Linked DNA regions of Homo sapiens. The protein of the gene in region 1 interacts with the protein of each later gene in a pairwise test. Each region holds a gene or a part of one and is shown on either strand. Other genes may lie near its edges.

The links. The genes of interacting proteins can lie anywhere in the genome.
Region 2: the proteins of CEP152 (region 1) and EPB41L3 interact in a two-hybrid assay, tested with the Homo sapiens proteins (one study listed by BioGRID and IntAct).

The regions. Positions count from the first base shown.
Region 1 is NC_000015.10:48,808,059-48,816,081, reverse strand, and holds the start of CEP152 (centrosomal protein of 152 kDa), read left to right. Parts: upstream 1-5,012; 5' UTR 5,013-5,121; exon of another isoform or gene 5,122-5,151; intron 5,152-5,274; exon of another isoform or gene 5,275-5,384; intron 5,385-5,487; exon of another isoform or gene 5,488-5,863; intron 5,864-8,023. UniProt on the Homo sapiens protein: Necessary for centrosome duplication; the function also seems to involve CEP63, CDK5RAP2 and WDR62 through a stepwise assembled complex at the centrosome that recruits CDK2 required for centriole duplication.
Region 2 is NC_000018.10:5,421,981-5,429,008, reverse strand, and holds part of EPB41L3 (band 4.1-like protein 3), read left to right. Parts: intron 1-543; coding exon 544-696; intron 697-4,649; coding exon 4,650-4,747; intron 4,748-5,455; coding exon 5,456-5,631; intron 5,632-7,028. UniProt on the Homo sapiens protein: Tumor suppressor that inhibits cell proliferation and promotes apoptosis. Modulates the activity of protein arginine N-methyltransferases, including PRMT3 and PRMT5.

The DNA of each region.
Region 1 (8,023 bases):
ACGCCTTGCTAATTTTTATATTTTTGGTAGAGACGGGGTTTCGCCATGTTGCCTGGGTTGGTCTCAAACTCCTGACCTCAGGTGATCTGCCGGGCTTAGCCTCCCAAAGTGCTGGGATTACAGACATGAGCCATGGCGCCCCACCCAAATGTATATTATTTTAAAGTCGCTATAGAAAAAGTGAAAATATTTAAAGTAGTTAACACTACATAGAGTTGGTTTAATCAAACAACTCACAATAAGCTTACTTGATATTGATGAAGCCAAACATAGTTAATAAATAAACAGTAATAACAGCTCGTAAAGACCATGACTTCCTGGGGGAATGGTGCTATTAACATCCTCCTTCCAAAACTGGGAATTCCAATTACCTTCAACTGTGCATGAGCAAGAGCTTTGTAATATTGCACATCCAAATGATGATCATTCTTGATAAACCCGAAAAATGCACTCATTTTAATTTACAAATTCTTAACATTAGTAACTTCCTATATCTTACTTGGTGGATTTCTAATTGTATGTAAAAATAAAAATCTACAAATTATTTTCCTATGATAATTGAAGAAATGCCTTGGGCATTTGTATCATTTAATACAAATGAGGTATACCAGTGGACCATGGCCCTATTTGGAGTATCACTGGTCTAGACTTTTCAAATATAATCACTAAAAATGTATCTTAGTCATGAATGTTTGGTTGCCAAGAATGTAAACCTACCTTTATTAACTTCTTAGGGCTACTGTAACCAATACCGCAAACAACAGAAGTTTATTCTCTCACAGTTCTGGAAGATAGAAGTCTGAAATCAAGATGTGGTAGGGCCATGCTCCCTCCAAAGGCTCTAGGGAAAAATCCTTTCTTGTCTCTTCCAGCATCTGGTGGCCCCAGACGTTCCTTGGCCTATGGCAATCTAACCCCAATCACCACCTTTACCCTCACATGGCTGTCTTCTCCCTATGTGTCTCTTTGTGTCCTCTCTTCTTATGAAGACACCAGTCATTAGACTTAAGGCTGATAGCACTTTGCATAGCACTTCTGTGATGACATTGCTTTAACCTGATAGCTTTGACACCAAAAAAGAGGAAAAGGGAGAAATGATGGTTTAGCTTTACCTAAGTTTAATCCCGAATGAGCTCATATTAAACAATTGTATCAGCAAAAACCATATTTCCAAATAAAGTCACATTCTGAAGTTCTAGGTGGACATGAAATTTTAGGGAACATGATTCAACCTCTACAATGACCCAAGCCAGCTCAAGTCAAAAAGTTTTTAAGGTTTAGTTATCACAGAATGCAAGGAAAAGCTAAACTGTCTGGCTTTTCAAAGTACAGGAACCAGACAGATACATGGCTTTCAGTGGCAAAAGTTCATGATCTTCAGTCTAGGGTCTACCATGTATATGACACAGTTATGGAGGAAGCATATTTCCCATAAAATACAGGCAAGTGTAATAAAAGTCTGCTTCTCCTCTGTATGGCTACCACCTTGCTCAGTTTTGTGGAATCTTAGTTATCTGGGAAGGGAATACGATTGGCCCAGCTTGGGTCTAGTGTTCCCCTTTGATTCAGTCAAGTCTGGCCAGGACCGTGGGTGGTAGGATGGTGATGGTGGTGAGGTCATAATGACTGTGAGCAGGAGCAGATTCTGTGAGAAGGGACTTGAGCAGAGTGGGCATTTTGATCCACATGTCAATATTAAATGATCCCAGCACAGTGTTTGGCACAAAGTAGGTGTTCCCAAAATACTGTTGAATAAGATGTAAATAATGGTCTGATCTTCCTTGGTTCTTTCCAAGTACTCCTGTTCCATCTCTAGCACTTCCTATTTTTGTCCTGTTCTCATGAAGCCATATCCTTTGTGTAGACTCTTTGTTTGTCCCATCCCATAAGCTCCTGTTGCCCTCGGCACACATTCACCCTTGTCTTTCTCTGCCATCCACTCCCAGAACACCTTCCTGGTTTTTCCTTACTACCTCAGACCCCAGTGTGTACTCTAATCCAATAAGCCATAGTACATAGAAACACAATGGAAAATAATGTTTTTACATTTAAAAGCTGTTTCTCACAATCTCATCTCATTTTTTTTTGGCCACAATCCTGAGAAGTGGGTATTATCATCCCTATTTTCAGATAAGGACTTTGAGGCTTTTGAGTGTTAAATTGTTATGGACAATGCTAGTAGGTAGGAGAACTGGGACTTGAACTCAGATCTTCTTACTCTAAGTTCTGTGTTCCTTTGAAGATAGTACTCCTTGATGATAGCACTTTGGATAGCACTCCTGTGATGACATTGCTTTGACCTGATAGCTTTGACACCAAAAAGGAGGAAAAAGGAGAAATAATGGTTTAGCTTTACCTTTATAAATGCTTGTTAGTGGGAGGGACCCCATCTCATCAACAATGTGACATTTTCTCTTGAAATGTCTCACCCAGCTCATAGGTGTGCCCATTTAAAACATGCAAGGTAAACATCGAGCCAACGTTTCACAAATAATCTTTTGTCCAGCATTTGAGATCTTTGGCAGTTTTACTTTCTTCTCCCACACTTGCCTTTCTTATCCCAGAATGCCTCTGTCTGCTTGTGTTTCTTTGGATGTTAGATTCATTCCTTGTGCACACCATTACCTGACCTCTGTAGAATGCCCTTCCTATTCTCCCAGGCTTAAAGCTCTTCTATGGACCACCTCCTTCCTGCCTTCTTCTCCAGACTTACATCTAAATGTAAGATTCCTGCACTTTTGCTGGTCTGGCCTTTAAATTGCACTCATGCTAATCAACTGACCTGTTGAGCTCTCTCCTTCTCTTCTTCCTTGAACCTGCCTTGATAGATTCATCTTTAGGTGTTCACTTTCCCTAGAATTATTGCCTATTCTACTCTTATTACACTTAGTAAACAATTTTTATTATTATTTATCTTTCTACGTAAGCATCTTGTAACTCAGAGTGTTGGTACCTTGAGCATAGGGGTCCTACCCTGCACCTAGGCCAGGACTTAAACAGGATAGGTGGTCAAAGAAATTTAGTTGAATATATCCATAACTCCACCAAAAACCATTTTTAGAGGCATGGCAGGATGGGAGGTTGATTTATTCTTTATTTTCCCTCTTTGTCACGTATATGCTAGTCTCACTAAAATATTTTGTATGTAGTGATGAGCTCTGGGTTTGGAGATAAAGGACCTGGTTTCAGATTCTGTCTGCCTTGTATTAGCTGTGTAGCCTTGGACAAGTCATTTAATTTATTTTTATGTAAGTTTCTTCAACTGGAAAATGGGTAGGAATACCTGTCCTAACCCCCCACAGTGTTGTAGTGAGAACCAAATGAGATGATGCTTGTGAAAGAATTTACCAATCTGTAAAGCACTGTGTAATGGATTATAAACACTGCCTCCTCATGTGCTTACCCTGACACGTTTTATGCTTTCATCCTTCTAAGAAGCAGTTGTTTGTGCATGGGGATCACCTGGCATTCTTGCTGCAGCACTCCATCATAACCCTCAGCACAGAATGCAACATACAGTTTGCCAATCGACTTCAGTGGGATGTGAAAAGTGAAAAGTGCATTTAATTCTCACTAAGATGCCTTGGCTCAGATTCAACAAATGCCATTTACTTGAAGGCCTTTTATTTGCTTTTTCTGCCTGCCCCCCTGCCAAAATCTTCATCTATTTGTTCATTTATTCATTTACTCATTTAACATAATTGTTTTGAGTGCCTACCAGGGTCATGTTAGACACCCAAGAAGTAAAGTGAGTACTTCAAGATATTCACGTTGTACTGAGTGTAAGACACACAAAAACTTACAGTAGATAAAAGAACTATAATAGGATATATAGGATACACTGTGTACAGAGGTAGGAAAGATCATTTTTGCGAAGTGAGGGAGTGTGTGTCATGAAAGGCTTCAAAGGAGGTGCTAGTCTGTCTTCAAAACTAAGTAGCAGGAGAAGGTAGAGGCGATGCAGGTGAAAGAAACAGCTTTCACAGCAGGTGAAAGAAAAAAAGCGCTCTGGGAACCATTGTTAGCTCAGGCTGTGATTTCGTTCATTCTATTACAGTGGGTTAAATTACCTGTTGTTTGCCAAACCCTATACCAGTTTATGGGGTTACAGGGGTCAGTGTAGGCATCATGGGGGCGGACGGTGAAGTAGCAAAGGAAAACCAGCCACAGTATGAAGAGCCTCGAACAACCATTTTACTCCGTGCCAGTACACATGGGAAAGGGTTGAAAGGATATGTGAACCTGCCGCCACCAATTCCTTGATTATTCACTGGAACCCTTTCAGCCAGAGAAGATAGACACAGTACTGGGCTTTACTGAGGACTGGGTGGCGCTGTCTTTAGGGGCAGGTTAATAATATACACCTAAGTGACAAGAACACTCACACCCGAGGAAATTAGAGTAGTAAATAGACACGTGGAAAAATGTGCCATCTTATCAGTAATTAAAGAAGCAAAAATGTAAACAAAGCGGCACCTAGTAAGGTAGAAGACAAAGCAAAATATCTAAGGCTGTTAAATAATGGGGAAGCAGGCGCCTTAGAAAACAAGGGCAAATGTAAAAAACCTCTAAGGCAAGAGTTCGGTGGGGAATCTGCGGGATTCTGTGTGCTGAAGCGCAGGAGGCACGAGTCACCTTTGCAGTCTCCGGTACCAAACGGGCAAGGGGTCCCCGTAAGACTGCTGCACCCTGGCCGAAGGTAGCGGGTGAAGCGCCTCGGCGTCTCTAGGCAACCGATCAGCCCGCCCACTCCGGGGTGACTTCCTCGTAATTGGCTCTCGAATCCACCAATGGGCGCACAGGGGGAGCTTCCCGCCACCTCTGGCGCCCGCTTTCAAACAGCCGTACTTTGCAACTGCAGGTGGACTTCTCAACCAAGCTTGAGGAAGGCGGAGACTTCTGCCTCCTCGCTCTGCCCTGAGCTGGCACGGCTCCGCCCACCGGGCGAGCTTCTAGTCGGCGATTGAAGGATGCGAGTGCTCCTTAAGGGCCTCCGCCCCGTGAGTTCGGTTGTGACTAGGAAGGAGCTAGTGGACTAGAGCCAGGGTAAGGGGATCTGCTAGAAGTTGGTCTTCCGCCAGGACTAGAGTTTCCTCGCGGTAACAGCCTCCGTGGCCTCCGGTAAGTTCTGATTCACGGGTGAGCTTGGACCTGGGGTTAGAGGAGTTGCGGGGTCCTCGGGATGCTGGCTGAGGGTTCCTGGGGGGGCTGACCTGCCCCCTCCCCAAATCCCGCGGTGGTGGACTGCCCGCATGTTGCGGGCTCAGCTTTTACCTTAACGTGTCATTTAGACCTCTTCATTCCTCCAATATCCTACTTAGAAGTGACATATGGGAAGCCCGCCTCGTTTCCAGGCTGCTGGGGTCGCCCTGAGACCCTACTCTGCGGACCCCGCCTTGGTCACCCTGGCGTCACGCCTGGCTCACAGTAGGTGCTCTGTGCACGTGTGTTGACCGAGTACAAGTGACGCTGGCACCCGAAGCCAGTAGCCCCGGGCATCCTGGGCCCCGTGCGGCTTTGGTCATGTTTGTAGTGCCGTAGCTGACGCCAAACAGTTCCTCAAGGTCATTCGCTCAGCCTGTGGATGCTTATTGTGTATTAGCATTACTCGCTCCGCCCTCTGGGCAACTTGAATCAATTTGTCCAAAGTGCTGTTATTAGCACTGATCACAAGATGTTGTGATCATTTGTTTATATGTCTATTTTCTTTCCCTTCATCGTGTCCTGTTAAACTTTGTAATCTTGAACAGTGCTTGGTAAATTGTCGAATGAATGAATAAGGTGTCTCCACCAGGTGTTGCAAGTCTAAACCGGGCTATGTGCTCTGGCTATTTCCATTCTAGAAGGCGAGTTATGTCAGCAAGTAAGTAGAATTTCCCAACTCCAAGTGCAGTTCTTAGAAACCCCTTTTGTGGGGGTTTATAACCCTTCCTATATCGTAGTCATGAACTTGAGTCTGATTTAAGCCTATTATCACCTTATACCTTCATAGTGCGTGACAATGAACATGCACTCCCTAGACAGGTGAATGCACTCAACTAAAGAGAAGCTGAAGTTGAAGCCATAAGAAAAGCATAAGAAATACAGTCTGAAAGTGCAAAGGAGTGGCCAGCTCCATGGGGGAACAGGCTTGGGAGGGCATCTTGAAGGAGGGTGGCATTTTTGTTCCATAGGAGGTTGCATTATTAGAAGTGACATTTCTCATAGGCTGCACATTCACCTTTTCTCAGATATGCGGAATCCTCTTTATTCCCTAAACCTCTTCGGTAGCTGGCAGACTCCTATTCATCAGTAATAATGTCATAATAGTAATAAAACTACAATGTATTGATTGGTACATAGTGCTAATTACTTTACATGTAGTATCTTGTGAATCCTCAGAATCAATCTTTGAAGTAGGTATTATTTTTACCCCCATTTCTTTAACGTAGAAGCAGAAACAGTTTGCTCAAGATTGCACTGCTGATAAATAGAAGAGCCAGAATTGAGCCCAGGTTGTCTGAATGAGTGCCCTCATTCTTAGAACCACTTATAGCCATATTGTGTCCTTTAAGATTTATTTCTAATCTAAAAGCTCTTTTTTTTCTGTAAAACTTCTCTAAACTATCCTTTCTTCTTAGGAAAAGTAATTTGTGCTTTGTACTTTCATCTACTACGGAATTTATTACAATATGTTATTGTAACTGTTTATATCAGTGGCTCTATCTAAGAGAGGGTGAGCAGAGACAGTGAGCTCCTCATGGCTGGTACCATGTCTTAGGTGCATCTAGGATATGATCTGGAACACAGTGGGTATTCAATAAAATTTTATTGAAGTAATGAATTCGTATAAGGTAACATGCCTATATCATATTCAGTCAACAAATATTTGTTATGTACCCACCATGTGCAAGCAGGCAGATACATTTTAATTCTGCCTTCAGGGTGCTTATAGTTTATTAGATGAAGCAAAAACAATGCTACTTTTGCTTTGTAATCTTTTGTCCAAATACCCATTGCTTTTGTTGCAAGGAGGGCAGAGAAAACAACCGGGGACAACAAAAGGAATGCTGGGTCAGAGCATCCATCTGAGTGTAACAACAAGACATACTTTTTATAGTCTTGTTAAGGGTTCAGAAAAAGTTATCTAGGAAGAAAGTCTACCAGACTGCTATTGAAGAAGAAAACCAAAACATACTGTATACTTAATCTGCATCTTGATTTCTCAAGTGGTCAGCCTTGAGTCAATAGATATAGAAAATTTTCAGTATTTTTACTAGTGGCATAGTATTGACAAATTAATTCAAAATAATTTTACTAGTGTAAATGTTAATTTTCAATATATTAATATTGATAGTTTTCAAGATGGTTTAGCAGTTGATATTTTCACCAGCAACTCATGAGCCATACAAAATACAAAATAGTCACCACTGGGTGATAACAAGTTTTTTTTTTGTTTGTTTGTTTTTTCAATCTAGTGGTTGAAAATGGCATATTGTTTAAATGACACTTCTTTGAAACATCACGAGCTTAAGCATCTTTTCAAACTAATTGATTTACACTTTTTAAAATAAATTGTCATGTCAGTCGCCCAATTTTATATTGGATTGTCTTTTTCTCATTTCTTTGTAATAATTTTATATTGGGACTTTGTCAGGTGCTTTGCAAATTTTTTTTATTCTTATTTTTCTTGACTTTGTTATTGATGTATTTTTTCATATATAATATTTGACTCGTTAATGATGTCTTTTGCCTTAAACAAAATTTTATTTTTTGTGGTTAGGTTTCCATCACATTTTTCTTTATGGCTTTTGGATTTACTATCTTGCTATTTTTTTTTTTTAAAGAAGTCTCTTTTGTTGTTCTGAATATTATACTAAAGTCTCTGGTAGCAGTGATAATGAGTGGTGATTAATAAGTTAAGGTATTAGCTTTTATTTTAAGTCTCATTTAAAATATGTATTACCTTTTTACTATATATATTTTTAACCACATTAAGTTGATCAGGTTTCCCTTTATGTCTGAAATCATTTCTTAAAGTCTT
Region 2 (7,028 bases), on another chromosome or scaffold:
CTTTTTAAAGGAACAACAACCAAAACCCTCATAGGAAAAGACAGGGTCCATCTTGTTAGCATACGTGTTGGTTAAGAGTGCTGCCTCTGGAACCAGGCTGTGTTCAGCTGGAACTCTGTACCTATTTTCTCATCTGTAAAATGGGAATAATAATAGTGACCATCTCAATTACAGTGAATATTAAAAGAGTTAATATATGTAAAGCAGAGCAGTGCCTGGCAATTGACAAGTGAGAACTGTGGCTACTATTATTACCGTTATTAACATACCTTCATGAGCTGGGCCCTCTTGGTGTGCAGTATTTACTTTGTAAGTCTGAGACACCTGGGAGAGCAGATTTTATTCTAACAAACCTCTCCATAGTGATAAACATCTTCACCAAAAGGCTAATGTTTAATGGTAATGTTTTAAAAATGGCTGCATCATTTTGCATAAGTAAACCAGCCATTTATAGTTTCTGTCGTGGATGCTTAAATACTTTACCCAGCAGAAAATGGAAATAAGTTAGATACTGATCTGTTGTTTCTTGCTTTTATTTTCCAGGACTCAGAAGGGGTAGAAATTATGTTAGGAGTTTGTGCAAGTGGTCTGTTGATATATCGCGACCGGCTGCGAATAAACAGATTTGCCTGGCCCAAGGTTCTAAAGATTTCATACAAACGGAACAACTTTTACATTAAGATCCGGCCGGGAGAGGTAAGTATACCCACATTTGCCTGTGCGTTGGGAGGAAAGATCCCTGATAGCAAGCAAGCATTTAAATTATCTGCTTATGAGTTCTGAGCATTGTGGGACACAGTGAATGACATCTAAGTGCCTGAGAGAGTTTATTGTAGGTTTGCCCAATAAACAGTAATAAATATTCTCTTCTTTATTATATTGTTCCAATATTTCCTACTGCATACGTTAATTGGAGGGTTTTTAAAAACATATTTTAATATAAAATCCAGTCTCGGCCGGGTGCGGTGGCTCACGCCTATAATCCCAGCACTTTGGGAGGCCGGGGGCGGGGTGGGGGCGTGGATCACAAGGTCAGGAGATCGAGACCATCCTGGCTAACACGGTGAAATGCCATCTCTACTAAATATACAAAAAATTAGCCGGGCGTAGTGGCAGGTGCCTATATTCCCAGCTACTCGGGAGGCTGAGGCAGGAGAATGGCGTGAACCCAGGGGGCGGAGCTTGCAGTGAGCCGAGATCGTGCCACTGCACTCCAGCCTGAGCAACAGAGCGAGACTCCGTCTCAAAAAAAAAAAAATTCCAGTATCATTAATAATTTTGTGTATATTTCAAGCAGTAATGGATAAATCTCTTCCTCCACATGCTGTTGTTATTTCTCCATGCTCTTTCTGTTTGTCCTGCAAATCTGGTTGTACTTTAAAGTGAACAGTTTAGAGGTCCTGTACTTCAAGGTACAAGGAATATTAGAACAAAGGACAATTAGTGTGAATTATATCAATGTTCTATAGCTCAATATATGTTTGTTTGTTTGTTTGTTTGTTTTAAGTCAGAGAAGCTAATGAGACAATCAGAATTGTTAACTAGTCCTTACTCCTTGGACAACAGCCTCCATGATCAACTTACGTTTATATCTTCCTTAGTGGTTTGTACATAATAGTAACACATATCTACTCTTATTTACTTAAGAGATAGTTAATAAATACCTCAAATTTCTAATTGGTATGGTTAGTATAACAGAGGCAGTCAAAGCTCAAAGATTCTAGCATACTTATATCTCTGAACATTTTCTGATATGATATAGAATTATCTCTTATCTTCAAAATCTACTTCTCTACTGGAGTTTCTTGGTGGAAAATGCAATTTAAAAAATCAGAATATCGGCTGGGCATGGTGTCTCATGCCTGTAATCCCAGAACTTTGGGAGGCCAAGGGTGGGAGAATCACCTGGGCCCAAGGATTTAAGGCTGCAGTGAGTTTGATCACACCACTGTACCCCAGCCTGGGTGACAGAGCAAAGACCCTGTCTCAAAAATAACAAAAAAATTGAAACATAAAGCATGTAATGATGTTTAGTATGAACATAACATCATACCTATCTATGATAACTGAAATAATCTGTAAGCTTTTCATGTAAATAACTAAAATTATAGTGTTTTAAAAATATTTCCTAAAGATTGTATATTAAACTTATAGCCAATAGATAGTCATTTGACTTCATTGAACATTTGTTAAGTGAGCACCTATTTATTGTCAGACATTAGAAATCTAAAGACAAATATGACCTTGTTCCTTGTTAAGGGATTTTCTATTTAGCAGAAAAACGGACTCATATACTTTGATTGTAACAGCATGATGCAAATGAGATGATATTCTGTAGACATGGAGTGAGCATAGTATTGTGAGATGCCAGAGGGGAGAGCTAGAGAAATGAATCAGTGGACAACTAGTAAGTCATGGGAGGTTTTAAATCAGGATGTGACACAACTAGGTGAATATTTTGGAATGATACATTTCTTAATGAAATTCAACGACTTAGAAACATGATGTGATAAGACCTAAACTAGGGCAGAGGCTGTGGGAATAGACGGGAGGGAACAAATGCAAGAGAGAGGTTTCAGAGGCAGAAGCAGCAGGTCGTAGAGACAGGATAGAGGAAGTAATTAAAAGAGGGAAAAGTCCAGGATAATCAAAGGTTTTCAGTTTGCATGATTGAAGCCAATGGAGATGACATTCGGCAGGAGGGAAAAGGGGGAAAATTTCAGAAAAACAACTGAAATCCCTTTGAAACAGATTTTCAGGGAGTAACTCTTGCATAGGAAGGAGTTGAACAGAGTTATCAACTGTATATATTTTATTCAAGGCCTTAGACATGGAATAAATTACTCAAAGAGCAAGGCAAGTTAGAGAAAGAAAAGGCCCAAAACTAGAACTCTGGATAATACCACTATTTGAGAAAGGGCCAAGGAGCTGAAGAAATGACAGCCAGAGAAATAAAAGAAGAAACAGGCTGATGGATGACCAGGAGATGAGTTTCAGAGGAAAGTGGTTAGCTAGCAGTATCATATGTTACAGAAAGGGCACGCAGGATGTGGACTAACAAAAGTGTGTTGAACTTAACAGTCAGGCCCCATGATGACATTTCAGAGTTCAGAAGGGCAACAGGAGCACCTGCCAGGTGTGTTGAGGTCAGGAGTAGGTAGCAGAGGCAGCAGGTCGTGGCTTCTGCTTCCTAAAGTTTAGCAGTGAGGAGTGAGATGGGGTTGTGGTGCTGGCATAAGCAGGCTCAGAGAGAGCTGGTTTTTCACTCCTCTTCTCTCTGCTTTTACAATCCTATTTACAGCCTGAGAAAAGTGAGTGAGAAGAAATTGGAGACACACAGACTCTGAAGAAGTTGAAAGAAATTGATATAAAACACAGAGAAATAGATATTAATAAACTATTAATACCTATTCAGGTAGTCTAGGAGCCTGCATCATCCTTGCCTACAGAGGTTGGCAGAGACTCTTCCCAGCTTCTTGCAGCAGAGTGCAAGCTGACTCTTCCATATAACCCCTGGCATTGGCGTAATATGTGCATATTAGTTGCAGGATGAATAAATGGATGATGATTTAGTCACAAGCCACACTATGTCTGTCTTGGCTGAGTCCCTTAGACAGTAGTGATTTTTACAAACACCACTGCACATGAACATCCAGAGTGAATAAGAAGTTGGGAAAGGCAATTGCGGTTGAAGCATTTGTGATGTGTTTCCCACTTCCCCTAATCATCCTCAACAAACAAGAAATAGAGGTCAAACATGATTGTATCTCACATGCCATGCATATGACCCCTCACCTCGGTTCTTTGCCATATAAATGATTTTTGCTATTGATTATAGCAGTAGTACCCATTGTGTGCTCTTTGGGGAAGCCTTTACTGTTTAAGATGATTGCCCTCTGGTGGTCTGATGTGTACCTTCTTCAGAATGTGAAAACCTGTGCATCTGCAGTAATAAAGTATATTATGCAGGAAATGAGATGAGTATTTCACCTCGAAAAATCAAATGGCTGATAAGGCATCATCTGAAGTGTACATGCTGAAAAATATGAAAATATGTTCCCCCAATCTCTGATCTTACGTATGATATAGAGAGACGTTAGCATTTAACACGATAATCCATAGCGGAACACACAAATAAAATCAGCAATCTCTGACACCAAGTTATCAACTACCTAAGAAATACACATATTTCCTGCCCAGGTATTAGGAGAAAAGTCTCATTTCTAAGAATGCTGTAGACTATATTTGTAAACATTTTGTTCATTTCTGTACCTTGCAGTTGAAGTCATTGTGTCATTGAGAAACCATGAAAATAAAAGTTTAAAAGTGATATCAGGGCAAATTGATTTCTGGAAGAAATCAAAAAAACCCCTTTTCGTGTTTGGTTTTCAGTTGTATCATAAGATACACACTTATTCAGAAGACATTTTACTGTATGCATAAAGTGGCTATTTATACCTGCAGCATTTTAAAGACACATTTTTGAAATTAACAAATGAATCTGTATAGCATGAATTATGCATATAGCAATTGATCTAGTAAGTAAATTTTTAAAATTCTGGTGGCATCATGATTCTGTAATTTATTTACAGGGCTTCTGTTATTTATAATTTTAAACTTTACTCTTCAATGTATTTTTTTTTATTTAGTTTGAACAATTTGAAAGCACCATTGGGTTTAAGCTGCCAAACCATCGAGCTGCCAAGCGTTTATGGAAAGTATGTGTTGAGCATCATACATTTTTCAGGTAGGAAGAGATTATTTTGTTTTTTCCCTAAGGAATAATTATAATCACTTATACTGAAAAAGATTGTCAATAAAAAATATGGAATTTTATTCTTTCTATCCCTTCAAGTTCATTGTCACCATATTTCTTGATAAGAAATCCTAAGAGAACTAGAAAAAGACTAAATTTGAAGGATTTTCCCTAATTTGTCATGTACTTACATGTCCCAAACCCCCCTTCTTTAGTATCTTTAGTGTGTTTACATTATTTTTAGGGTGTCCACTTCAAATATCCAATCCATTCCTTACTATTTCAATTCCTTACTATTTCAGTGATTTCTCAATACCCTGAATCCCTTTACCTACCTATGCATGGTACGAGACCCATCAAATTAGGCACCCAACACCAAATTGTCACTCTTCTTCTTCACTAATATCAAACTATTTAGTAGCTGTTTGGGCTTATAGAACCATAGACTGTCCACTTTGCGTGGAATGTTAAAAATTCATCTAGTTCAGTACAACCCTCATTTGCATATATCCTCTCTACAATATCCCTAGTTGATATATACTATATGCATTCTTTTATGAAATCAGATTTATTTAACTGCAAGTTGTGCGTTAAATGTTTAGCATGCAAAACACATGACCTCTCAGAGTAAAAAGTTTAAAAAGCACTCTCAATATTGGACTTAATAGTCTTTCTGCTGTTTTTCTTTATTCTCTTTAGACTACTGTTACCAGAAGCACCTCCCAAGAAATTCCTAACCTTGGGTTCCAAGTTTCGTTATAGTGGCAGGACACAAGCGCAAACGAGAAGAGCCAGTGCGTTGATAGATCGCCCAGCACCTTACTTTGAACGCTCATCCAGCAAACGTTATACCATGTCTCGCAGCTTGGATGGAGGTAGGCATCGCTTACTGGCCCTTAATAACCTAGTACCTACCCCAAAAAGAATGTGAAACTGTCATGAGCTTTCAGTAAGTATAGATATTCCTGGATATTGTATGTTGAAAAGCAGTTGTTGCTTATTGACTGAATGGCACATTTTTAAGTCTCCCCCAGCGAAATGAAAGTCCCTTTGTCAGTCTAACATCTGCAGGTTTATGTAAAATTACATAAAAGAATGGCACTTCGGGAATGAAGAAAATAGCTTTCATAAGCTGACACCCTGAATTTGGAGAAAGATGCTCTCATTCTAAATATAGTAGTCACATACTCTGTGATTTGATTCTCTTGCCAACAGGTCTTAAAGGATTGGTAGGTTTAAGACCATTTGTTTTATAAATCTATAAGTTAAATTTATTTCTGTTTCTAAAAAATCTTTATGAATAAAGTGTGACCTTTATCAGTCAGTTGATAATAGCTGGTAGAAAGGATGACATTCAAATAACAGAGCACAGGGTTGTAAGTTAAATTCTCCTAGTTGTGCTAATTACTACCCCAGATGGACTGGGAGAACAGTGCTAGGTAGGGGTTCTGTACTGCCAAGTTAAATTAGTCAAATGGAGAGATGATCATTCAAACTACCTTTTTAGGGGATAACACAACAGTGAATTTTTAGTAGGGTTTTGTTTTATCGAACAGTTTCTTGATTGCTCTCTGAAGTAATATGGAGGTACACTTTCTGCTGCAAGGCGTGCCCGCTGTAACAATACTCTGGAACTGAATCATGTCTAGGTCTCTGTCTTCTCATTTGGAGCACCTGGAGATTTGTTGTTTTTAATAGAAGATCTTATCCTGTGCAAATAAAAAGAATTAGGAGTTTCTGGTATGCAAGTATGGTTTAAATAATAAGGAAAAACATAAATAAAAATAAACAAAAGTTACAAGTGCATGGTACCATCTCCTTTCCTACCTTTTTTGCCACTGTTCCCCTGAGAGTCTCAGCTCTGCCTTCCCCATTTCACTAGCCGGGTGATTGATGGGGAGAGGTGCTCCTTGAATCTCCCAACTAAAAACAACTGTCTTTTTCTAATGGAATACTTTATGAACAGTTTATAGAAGAAATCAAAATGGCATTATTAGTGCTATATTATGTATGTTACTAGCGAGGTGGAAACTGTACTCTTGTGGCATGGGTAAATCCAGATTGAAGTCCAGGCTCTGCTGCCCTCTGTCTCTGCGGTGGTTGACAAATGATTTCAGCTCTCCAGGTCTGTTTTAGTCATCTGTATAATAGGAATAAGGCCGCCTTTGACGGGGCTGTTGTGAAAAGCAAGATATATGTGAAAGCACTCTTGTTACATAGGTAATTATCTCAATAATCATATTGATAATTACTCTTTTTTCACATTTTTTTA